2 separate regions of the Homo sapiens genome follow, and region 1 is linked to region 2. The links come from fine-mapping of genetic effects on gene expression. Tissue or cell type: cerebellum. Region 2 holds a variant in brackets; the other region holds the start of a gene. All regions are shown on one strand. Distances are between the middles of the regions.

The links. PIP is the estimated chance that this variant, and not a neighbour inherited with it, causes the effect.
Region 1: it holds the start of PRKD2, and the variant in region 2 is fine-mapped to the expression of PRKD2 in cerebellum (GTEx, PIP 0.99).

What each region holds. Positions count from the first base shown.
Region 1 is chr19:46,714,537-46,719,679 of GRCh38, forward strand. It overlaps PRKD2 (protein kinase D2), which reads right to left and starts at 2,578. Exons shown (of 18, transcript NM_016457.5): 1 at 1,595-2,578. The coding sequence starts at 1,834. STRN4 (striatin 4) reads right to left here. Exons shown (of 18, transcript NM_013403.3): 18 at 4,975-5,143. It overlaps LOC107987269, which reads right to left. Exons shown (of 4, transcript XM_017027568.2): 1 at 4,110-5,143; 2 at 3,817-3,966; 3 at 3,263-3,440; 4 at 1,998-2,641. The coding sequence starts at 4,527. The coding sequence ends at 2,275. RefSeq lists enhancers at 13-312, 3,824-3,873 and silencers at 2,474-2,523, 2,544-2,703.
Region 2 is chr19:46,760,522-46,765,664 of GRCh38, forward strand. No RefSeq gene overlaps it. Among named protein-coding and RNA genes, the nearest start is that of STRN4, 17 kb to the left of the region's middle. RefSeq lists a silencer at 931-1,225. The variant A/G (reference allele first, on the strand shown) is at 2,857.

The DNA.
Region 1 (5,143 bases), 46 kb before region 2:
ACCCAATGCTCAAAGGACCCAGGTGTCTGGGTCCTCAGCTTTGGGGGCCTGGGGGCAGGAAATGAAACCTAGTAGAACAGAAAGTGAAACTGCCCCGGTGGGGCCTCGGGAAGGAAGGTAAGCGGCCCTAACACACCTGGACCTGGCAGAAAAATAAAACTGGGGTGAAGCCTGAGCGGGGCAGGCTGGGGACTTGAGCACTGGACAAAGAAGTTCACCCAAGGGACAATCTGCCCCCGTACCCCCACTGCCACCAGCTTCCCATGAAGTGGGCTGAGTTGGGGTGGTGAGCTGGGCCTGCGGGATTGAGGCATTTGGTGGGCAAAACCCTATCAGTTCTCACTGCTAAGAGAGAGTCCACAGAAGACCAGGACTGCCTTGGCCCTGACCCCTTGGGAAGTTTTTCTCTAAGCTTCAGTTTCCTTGTCTGTAGAATGGGGGAGCTGGCCCAGTTCCCCACGTTTCTCTGATGCCCAAAGGATTCATTTCCAGGAGTCTGAAAAGATTCTGGAATTTGGATATTTTGGGACTCCAACATGCTCACATTATAGAATTATACATTCTAGATTCCTACCTGGTATCACTATACATTTTAGGATTTCAATAACCTAAATAAGCGGTAATCTAATATTTTAATATTCTAGGAGTCTGACAAGCTAGGACTGTGCTCTTTGAATTCTTTAGCATTCAAGGACCTCATCCATCCAGCATTCTAAAATTCTAACATTTTAACTTTCTAGGATTCAACAATCTAGGAATCTAATATTCCAGCATTTTAATGTTTTACTATTTCACAAACCTAGAATTCTAATATTTGAACACGAACATGGGGGCAATTTAATTGCCTAGGATGCATATTCCAACAAGTTATGATTCTAATATTCTAACATTTCTACAGTCCAGTACTCCAACACAGAAGCCCACTATTCTTTTAACATTTCACGGTTTAGACGTGGAGTTCCACCTGGTTTCCTCTTGCCATAACACCCAGCTGCCCACCCTGGGGACCCTGGTGTCCAAAATTAAGAGTAGGCTAACAGCACTGTGACTAGGAAAGGGAATAGAGTCCCCAGGGTCTGTAGGAGTGCCTGCCCCTCCACACATATCTCAGGCTTAGGGGAGGGCAGAATTGGGCTCCGAGACCTCACTTGCCCCTGGCAGCTAACTCAAGCACCTGCACCCACACATGTCACCGGATCACCATGGCCAGCCCGGGTTCAATTTCTCCTGTTTCCACCAAATGGGAGGCCCGGGATGGGCCTGGACGTGGAGGTCCGCCGACATCTGCTGCCCCTTCCTCCCCTCTCTACACCTGGCTGGCCCCTCCCTTCCTCCCTGTTTGCTGCAGAAAACAACGACATGCAGGGACATGAAATTTGGGGAGGCCTCTGGGGCACCCCACCCCTGCCCAGTCCTCTCTCAAAGGGATGGTGGGGAGAGGGGCAATGGAGGGGGGCAATGCCCCCTATCCCTCCATCACCCAAAGCTCAGGTCTCCTTCCTCCCTCTTCCGCACACCAGGCCCCAGACCCCTCTGCCAGCGCCCCCTCCTTCAACCTCTCCCCGAGCTGGATCCAGGGAGCCTGCGCCCTCACCTTCTGGTCCACGATGGAACAGGCCAGCTGCTTCACATGAGCCAGCTCGGAGGCGGCGGGCAACAGCACGAACTCGCGGGTCAGCCCGATCTGGATGTGAAAGGAGACCCCGGAACCCGGGGCCGGGATCTGGGGCAGTAGCGGTGGCGGCGACTGCAGCTCTAGGCCGCCGGGGGGCGGAGGAGACCCCGGCCCGGGAGAGCCAGGGAGCCCGGCGGGATAAGAGGGGGCGGTGGCCATGGGGGGAGGCCGGGGACCGGCCGCCTGGAGCCCACCCGGGACCCGGCCGGGGGGCCCCGGGGGACCCTGGGTTCTAGATCCGCGGGATCTCGTGAGCAGGTGGTGGGAGAGCGGGGATCCGAGAAAAGATCTGGCAGGCGGAGGGGACCTGAGGATGGCGGGGTCCTGGGAAGGAGAGAAAGGCACTATAGTGGGTCAGAGGCCCGGAATCCAGGGCTCCCAGAAGATCAGAAAGGAGAAAAGTAGTGGGTTGGAGGTCCCAGCGATTGAGATTCCAAGAAGCCTGAGAGGAAATCTAGTAGGTCGGGGTCACAGGGATCAGGAGAGCCCGCGATTCAAAGGCCCCTTCCCTAGAGGAGGGATTGAGAAGGGGGCAGAGGGAATCCCAGGATCCAGTGCTCCAAGAAGAGGATCCCACTCAGAAGGCGGCCCGGGGGAATTCACCTTGGGGGTGGAGGGCAGGAGTCTCTGAGTCGGGGACCGAGTGGATTCCAGAGATAAAGGGGTTCGCAGGGACCCGACCGGCCAGGGGATGGGCAGAGGGGTCCCGAGGGCCGGAGTGGGTAGAAGGGAATCTCACGAGTCGCAGAAGTTGGAGAAAAGTTCGGTCGGGAGCCGTGAGGAAGGGGGCGTTGCCGGAGCGGGGTTGGGTGGGGGGCAGGGAGGGTCGCCAGGCGCCAGTAGCTCTTTTTCCCCCTCCAAAGTTTAAGTCGGCGGCGGCGGCGGCGGCCCAGGAGGAAGTGTCCGGAGCGACAGTGCAGTCGACCAATCGGCGCGGGCCTCGGCGACGTCAGAGAGGGGCGGAGCCTGCCGAGGGGCCGGGGGCGGAAGGGGAGGGTGGGCCCGGGGCCTCCGAGTTGGGGGCTGGACCTCCGCCTCCAGGGTCCGGGACAAGGGATGGTGTGAGGGATGGAGGGCAGGCAGGCGAGACCAGTTCCTTCCCTGAACACAGCCAAGCCTGGAAAGTTAACTTTTCCCTCGGCTGGACAGGGAGGGGAAACACTATCACCCACCGCCGGTCGCAGGCGTCGGGCTTGGAGGCCACTGGCCCTTTAAGGAGGGGAGCCCTCTCCGGCAGGCGTCCGGCGCCCATGGCAGGGGACGGGTGGGAAATCGGTATCAGGTCCCGGCCCGCTCTCTGGGTTCGGCCTCTCTGTTCTCCGAGCGTCACCCCTGCCCTCCCCGCCGCGTCCCAGCCCAGGGAAGGGGGTGCTGCAGAGCGTCCCCCGGCCCCAGCCCATTTAACACATGGAAAGACCGAGGCCTCCAGATGGGTAGGAAGGGGCTCGCCTTAGGTCTGTCTCCAGCGATGGTGGGCAAGGTGCATGGCGCTAACTGGATGGGTGGGGAGGGTCCATCCCCCCGCCCACCCCAACCCCGCCTTAGGATAGTGTGGGGCTGCCCCGAGGGAGGACAGCACACCCATACCACTTCATAGATGCAGAGTGTGTCTCCTGGGGATGTGGAGTACGTGTGCGTGTCTTTCTCTCCATGTGACTTTGGGTGAGTGGCTTCTCTGTGAGCCTCAGTCCCTCCATCTGTTGGGACTGTAATAGGACTGACCCCACATGGGATGGTGGGAGCCGATGCCATGGTATACTGGTGCCTGGAAACGCAGCAGTTCAGTAAGAGGTGGTTGTCTCTGATAATACGCGGAAAGGGGTGGCCACCTCCAGCACTCAGGCTTTGATGGGTGGGCACACCCATTCAGTCACCCAGCAAGTATCTGTGAGGACCTACTGGGTGCTGGGTGGGCCCTGCTGTAAAACTCCAGCCGCTACAGGGGTCAGGCTTGATCTCTCCTCCCCAGCTAATAATCAAATAGTGGCTACCATTTAGTTTACACAGAATAAGCTGAAGCCTCAGAGAAGCAAAACGTCTTGCCCAAGATCCCAGAGTGAAGTTGCTTGAGGGAAGCTGCCCCACCCACCCCTTTGATTGACAAGTCAAGGCCTAGGTTTGAGCTCTAAGAGAAGGGCCACCTGTCTGGCTGGGATGCTGGCAGGACTGGAAATGGCAGGGCTGGCTGAGGATGGGGGCTGCCAGAAGAGCCCCTCTTCCTGGTGTACGGCCGTTGGGGGTAGCTGAGGTCGGTACAGTATCGATTCTGTCACCACATCCGGGGGCTGGGGCTGAGGAAGGAAGTCTGAGGCTGGAGTGAAAACCCAAACCACCACCTGGGGAACTGCATTGAGCCCAGAGGGATGGGCAGGGAGCACACCACGTGGAGCCCACGAAGGCTCCCCTTGGCGTCATCTAAGGGCCTCCTGCCCACCTGCACCCTTTTTCCTGAAGGGCAGATGACTGTCCCAGCAAAACGCTGCCATGTCCTGAGTGTCCAGACAGCGGCCTCCATCCTTTCTCGTATGTTCACTGGGGCCTGCTGGGGGACTGGGGCACAGCCCTTTACAACCCAGGAACTGGGCATTAGTGCCCTGTGGCAGAGGTGCTAGGATTACCGAGGACGCCTGGCTGGTAGGTGGTGGAAGCCTCCTCGAGACAGGAGCAGCGGTCCCCTCCGTCTCATCTGGAGCATGTGGACACCTGCTCCCTCTTTTTAAGGCTGTGGACCCAGTGAAATGCCATGTAAAGCACTCAGTACAGTAGACGTGGACCACTGAGAAGGGAAAGGAGGGACGCATCAGGACATGAGCCACGAGGGCTCGGGCACCTGCGGCACCTCCTCCCAGCATGGAGGAGCCTGCGCCCCAAAGCCATCATCCTCCACTGGCAGGTGCAGCCTTTTCCCTCCCTGCTCCTTGTGGGCCTGGGATGGGAACAGGAAGGGGGTTTACGTCCTCTGGGCACCAGCCCTTTGGCCTCGCCACCACCCTCACACATCCCAGGCGGGGCTGAGGCTTCAGCTGGACTGTCATCATAGTATCTGCTCCCCAGGGCTCTACCCCTGGGGAGGGAGCACTTAGGGACAGAAAGGGCACAAGGAGATTCGGTCCAGTGCCTCCACTTCTCTCCACCCACACCCCACCCAAGCTCTGGGCCCGTCTCCGGCCCCTGCTGCCCTACCACAAAACCCCAACCCATCATATCCCCTCTCTCCAAACTCCACCCAACCCAGGCAGAGCCGGTCACTCCTCCCCCAAAGTCCCCAGTGCCCTCAACAGATGGCACCGTCACCCATCTTACTCCAAAGGGTTTATTGAGACAAGTTTTCACATACAAGATGGGGACAGAGGGGTTGGGGCTTATAAACAGGAACCTGGAAGGGGACCGAGGGTGCAGGGTAGAACCAAACAAGAGAGTGAAATAAATAGAGGGAAAGAGTGGAGACAGGGAGGAGACTGACTGAGA
Region 2 (5,143 bases):
GACCAGCCTGGGCAACATAGAGAGACCCTCATCTCTACAAAACATTTCAAAAATTGAGCAGGGCGTGGTGGTTTACACCATTAATCCCAGCACTTTGGAAGGCCGAGGCAGGTGAATTGCTTGAGCCCAGGAGTTCAAGACCAGACTAGGGGCCAGGCGGGGTGGCTCATGCCTGTAATCCCACCACTTTGGGAGGCTGAGGCGGGCAGATCACTTGAAGCCAGGAGTTCAAGACCAGCCTGGCCAACAAGGCAAAACCATGTCTCTACTAAAAATACAGCAATTAGCTGGGCGTGGTGGTGCACCCCTGCAGTCCCAGCTACTCAGGATGCTGAGGTGGGAGGATCACCTGAGCCCAGGAGGTCAAGGCTACAGTGAGCCATGATCATGTCACTGCATTCCAGCTTGGGCAACAGAGTGAGACCCTGTCTCAAAAAAACAAAAATCCTTATTATCACCTAAGTTATGATATGACAAAGATCTGTCACAATTAACTTGAACTAATTCATTTTTATTCAAATATGTATTGAATTTCAGTGCTTTCTCAACTACTCTTGTACTATTATTATCCAGTCAGAAGTATTTCAGTATTTTAACAACCAGTATTGGCCAAGTATGGTGACTCACGCCTGTAATCCTAGCACTTTGGGAGGCCGAGGTGGGTGGATCACAAGGTCAGGAGTTCAAGACCAGCCTGGCCAATATGGTGAAACCCTGTCTCTACTAAAAATACAAAAACTAGCCGGGCATGGTGGTGGGCGCCTGTAGTCCCAGCTACTCAGGAGGCTGAGGCAGGAGAATCGCTTGAACCCAGGAGGCGGAGGTTGCAGTGAGCCAAGATCATGCCACTGCACTCCAGCCTGGGTGACAGAGCGAGACTCTGTCTCAAAAACAAACAAGAAAGAACAGTATTTCCATACTAGTTCAGACCAACTAAATTTTAGCCTTACTTGGAGGTGAAAACCCTGGCCAAAAATCTCTCTCTTGTACGTACAAAGTCCTTTTTGTTTTTAAATAGCCTCGGAATCTTCCAGGAAGTGCAACTACCACAAAAAATGAGGGAAGCTTGTATCGTGTTTTGTTCAAAACTTGGCCAAAGGTTGTCCACCATGTGAAAAAACTCACATTGCACATGGCTCTTGGTAATTGGACACCAGTCCACGTGTTTTCAATGTGTTGGAACTGTCTATATTACAGGCATAAACATCTGCCTACCTCCTTGGGTTCTAGGGGACTGGCTCCACACATCCGCATAATGAAATGCTTATTGTAAGTTACTATGTTCTTATTTCTCCTTTTTATTACATTTAGGGCAATCAAGGATCGTTTTTGTTGCTGCTGCTGTTGTTGTTGTTTCTGAGACAGGGTCTCACTCTGTCACCCAGGCTGCAGTGCAGTGGCACAGTCTTGGCTCACTGCAGCCTCAACTTCCCAGGCTCAGGCGATTCTCCCACCTCAGCCTCCCGAGTAGCTGGGACTACAGATAAGTACTACCACACCCAGCTTTTATATATATATATATATAAATATATTTATATATATAATGTCTCTACTAAAAATACAAAAATTAGCTAGGTGCGGTGTCGCACGCCTGTAATGCCAGCAGTTTGGGAGGCCAAGGCGGATGGATTACTTGAGGTCAGGAGTTCGAGACCAGCCTGGCCAACATGGTGAAACCCCATCTCTACTAAAAATACGTGTGTGTGTGTGTGTGTGTGTGTGTGTGTGTGTATTTTAAGTAGAGATGGGGTTTCACCATGTTGCTCAGGCTGGTCTCAAATTCCTGGACTCGAGTGATCTGCCCACCTTGGCCTCCCAAAGTAGGATTTTCTTAAATCATGTTAAATCATGTGCCAGTGGGTTATACTGTCTATGAACTTCATTTCAGGAGAACAGAGAGAACTTTCCCAGAACTGACATTCAAGCCAGCACACGCCCTGGTATGGCCACGCCAGTGGTTAAGACAGCAAAACACTAAATTATGGATTATTTACTCATTCATAAACGGTCACTGCCATGAACCCCCTGACTATTAGTATCCTCCTAGCTCTCCCTGGGGATCCCCTGGGCTGCCCTCTGGCCCAGAAGTCCAGGGGTTAAACTGGGTATAGTGGGAGATAAGAGGGACCCATATCCCGGATGTTGGATGGACTGATGACTTTGCCAAGCAGTAAATATTTTGTCTATCAGCCCTACATGTTACAAAATATTTGCTATGAACAATAGTGGCATGTAAAGACCTGTCTACATTAGCCAGGTGTGGTGGCTAATGCCTGTAATCCCAACGCTTTGGAAGACCAAGGCTGGAGGATCACATGAGCCCAGGAGGTGGAGGCCACCCAGGGTAATATGTTGAGACCCTGTCTCTACCAAAAAAATTTAGGAGGGGCGAGTGGCTCATGCCTGTAATCCCAGCACTTTGGGAGGCTGAGGCGGGCAGATCACTTGAGGTCAGGAGTTTGAGACCAGCCCAGTCAACATGGTGAAACCACGTCTCTACTAAAAATACAAAAATTAGCCAGGTGTGGCGGCTCACACCTGTAATCCCAGCACTTTGGGAGGCCGAAGAGGGCGGATTACTTGAGGTCAGGAGTTCAAGACCAGCCTGAACAACATGGTGAAACCCCATCCCTACTAAAAATACAAAAATTAGCCGGGCGTGATGGTGGGTGCCTGTAATCCCAGCTACTCAGGAAGCTGAGGCAGGAGAATTGCTTGAACCTGGGAGGTGGAGGTTGCAGTGAGCCGAGATTGCACCACTGCACTCCAGCCTGGGCAACAGAGCAAGATTCTGTCTCAAAAATAAAATAAGGTAAATAAAAAATAAAAAACCTGTCTACAAATGCACCTTTATGC[A/G]CAATAGCCCCAACCTGGAAACCATCAGATGTAAATCAACAGGTGGGTGGATAAGCAAACTGTGGTACACTCAGACAACATAATACTCCTTAGCAAGTTTTTTAAAAAAGGAAAGAACTGGGCCGGACGTGGTGGCTCACGCCTGTAATCCCAGCACTTTGGGAGGTCGAGGCGGGCCGATCACCTGAGGTCGGGAGTTCAAGACCAGCCTGACCAACATGGCAAAACCCTGTCTCTACTAAAAATACAAAATTAGCTGGGCATGGTGGCACATGCCTGTAATCCCAGCCACTTGGGAGGCCAAGGCAGGAGAATCACTTGAACTCGGGAGGCGGAGGTTGTAGTGAGCCGAGATTGTGCCATTGCACTCCAGTCTGGGCAACAAGAGTGAAACTCCATCTCAAAAAAAAAAAAAGAAAAGAAAAGAAAGAACAAACTACTGATACATGCAAAAATAAGAATAAATCCCAAAAGCATTATGACACATAAAAAAAAGCCAGATGCAAGACGCTACATAGTATATGATTCCACCAATGTAAAATTCTAGAAGAGGTAAAACTAATTCATAGTGACCAAAAGCAGATCAGTGGTTACCGGGGCCTGGAGCTGGAGAGAGGGGCAGACTGCAAAGAAGCATGAGGAAATTTGGGGATGATGAGAATATCATGTATCTTGATTATGGGAGTGGTTTTTCACAGTATATTCATCTGTCAAAACTCATTTAACTGTATTTTATTTATTTATTTATTTATTTTGAGACAGGGTCTCGCAGCATTGCTCAGGCTGGTCTCAAACTCCTGGGCTCAAGCGATCCTTCTGCCTCGGCCTCTCAAAGTGCTGGAATTACAGGCATGAGCCTGGCCTAATTGATTTTAACGGGTGCAATTTATCATATGAAACAATTTTTTTGGAGCCAGCCTTGCTCTGTTGCCCAGGCTAGAGTGCAGTGGTGCAGTCTTGGCTCACTGCAACCTCTACCTTCTGGATTCAAGTGATTCTCATGCCTCAGCCACCTGAGTAGCTGGGATTACAGGTGTGCACAACCACACCTGGTTAATTTTTGTATTTTTAGTGGAGATGGAGTTTCACCATGTTGGCCAGGCTGGTCTTGAACTCCTGGCCTCAAATGATTTGCCTTGACCTCCCAAAGTGCTAGGATTACAGGTGTGAGCCACCTTGCCCGGCCTATTGTATGTAAATTATACCTCAATAAAGTTGACCTCAAAAAGAGCAGATGGGGGCAGAATCCAACAGGCCTAAGAACATTGACCTGTCTCTAAGAGAGACAAAACTGAGTCACTGCCCTCTGCCTTTCTGTCCCCATACTGCCACTCTGAGCCTAGAACCCAGGACCAACCCTAATCCGGGGCCAGCCTGGGCCCTCCTTCCTGGGCCAAGCTCCTTCAAAGAGGCAAGAGGGGTGGGTGGGGCAATGGAGAAAGGGAGAGAAAGGTGGGAGCTGGGAACTGGGACCCAGGGAGTGACCGTCAAAGTGCCTTTTCTTCTGCTCTTACGTAACCTGCACTAGCAGCCTTTGGGTGAGGCATAAGAGAGCCATTGTCACCGGCGGGTGAGACCTGGCAGTGCTCATCCAAGGTCACATAGTTGCCAGGCAGCAGAGTCGAGACTGAACCAGCCTCTTCCACCATTCCACGAGTGTTTATTGAGCTCCTGCTATACGCATGCACCGGACCCTATGCTAGACTCTGAGCCTACAGCAGTGAACAATTCAAAGATGGTTCCCCCACAGAGTGACCTTCCCAGTGGGGACAGGCAGGAAACAATAAACATCATAAACCAGTGAATTCTATCGTCTGTTGGGAGGGGACTGTTGCTATTAAAAAAGGAGAACAGGGCAGGGCACGGTGGTTCACAACTATAATCCCAGCACTTTGGGAGGCGTAGGTGGGAGGATCCTTTCAGCCCAGGAGTTCAAAACCAGCCTGGACAACATACAGAGACTGTGTCGCTACAAAAAACAAAAATTAAGAAAAAAAAATAGCTGGGCAGGGTAGCATGGGCCTATAGTCCCAGCTACTTAGGAGGCTGAGGTGGGAGTGTCACTTGAGCCTGGGAGGTCAAAGCTGAAATGAGCTGTGATCATGAAACTGCATTCCAGCCTGGGCAACAGAGCAAGACCCTGTCTTTAAAAAAAAAAAAAAAAAGTAGAGCAGGCCTGGCGTGGTGGCTTATGCCTGTAATCCCAGTACTTTGGGAGGCCGAGGTGGGAGGATTGCTTGAGCTCAGGAGTATGAGCCTGGCCAGCCTGGGCCATAGAGCAAGACCC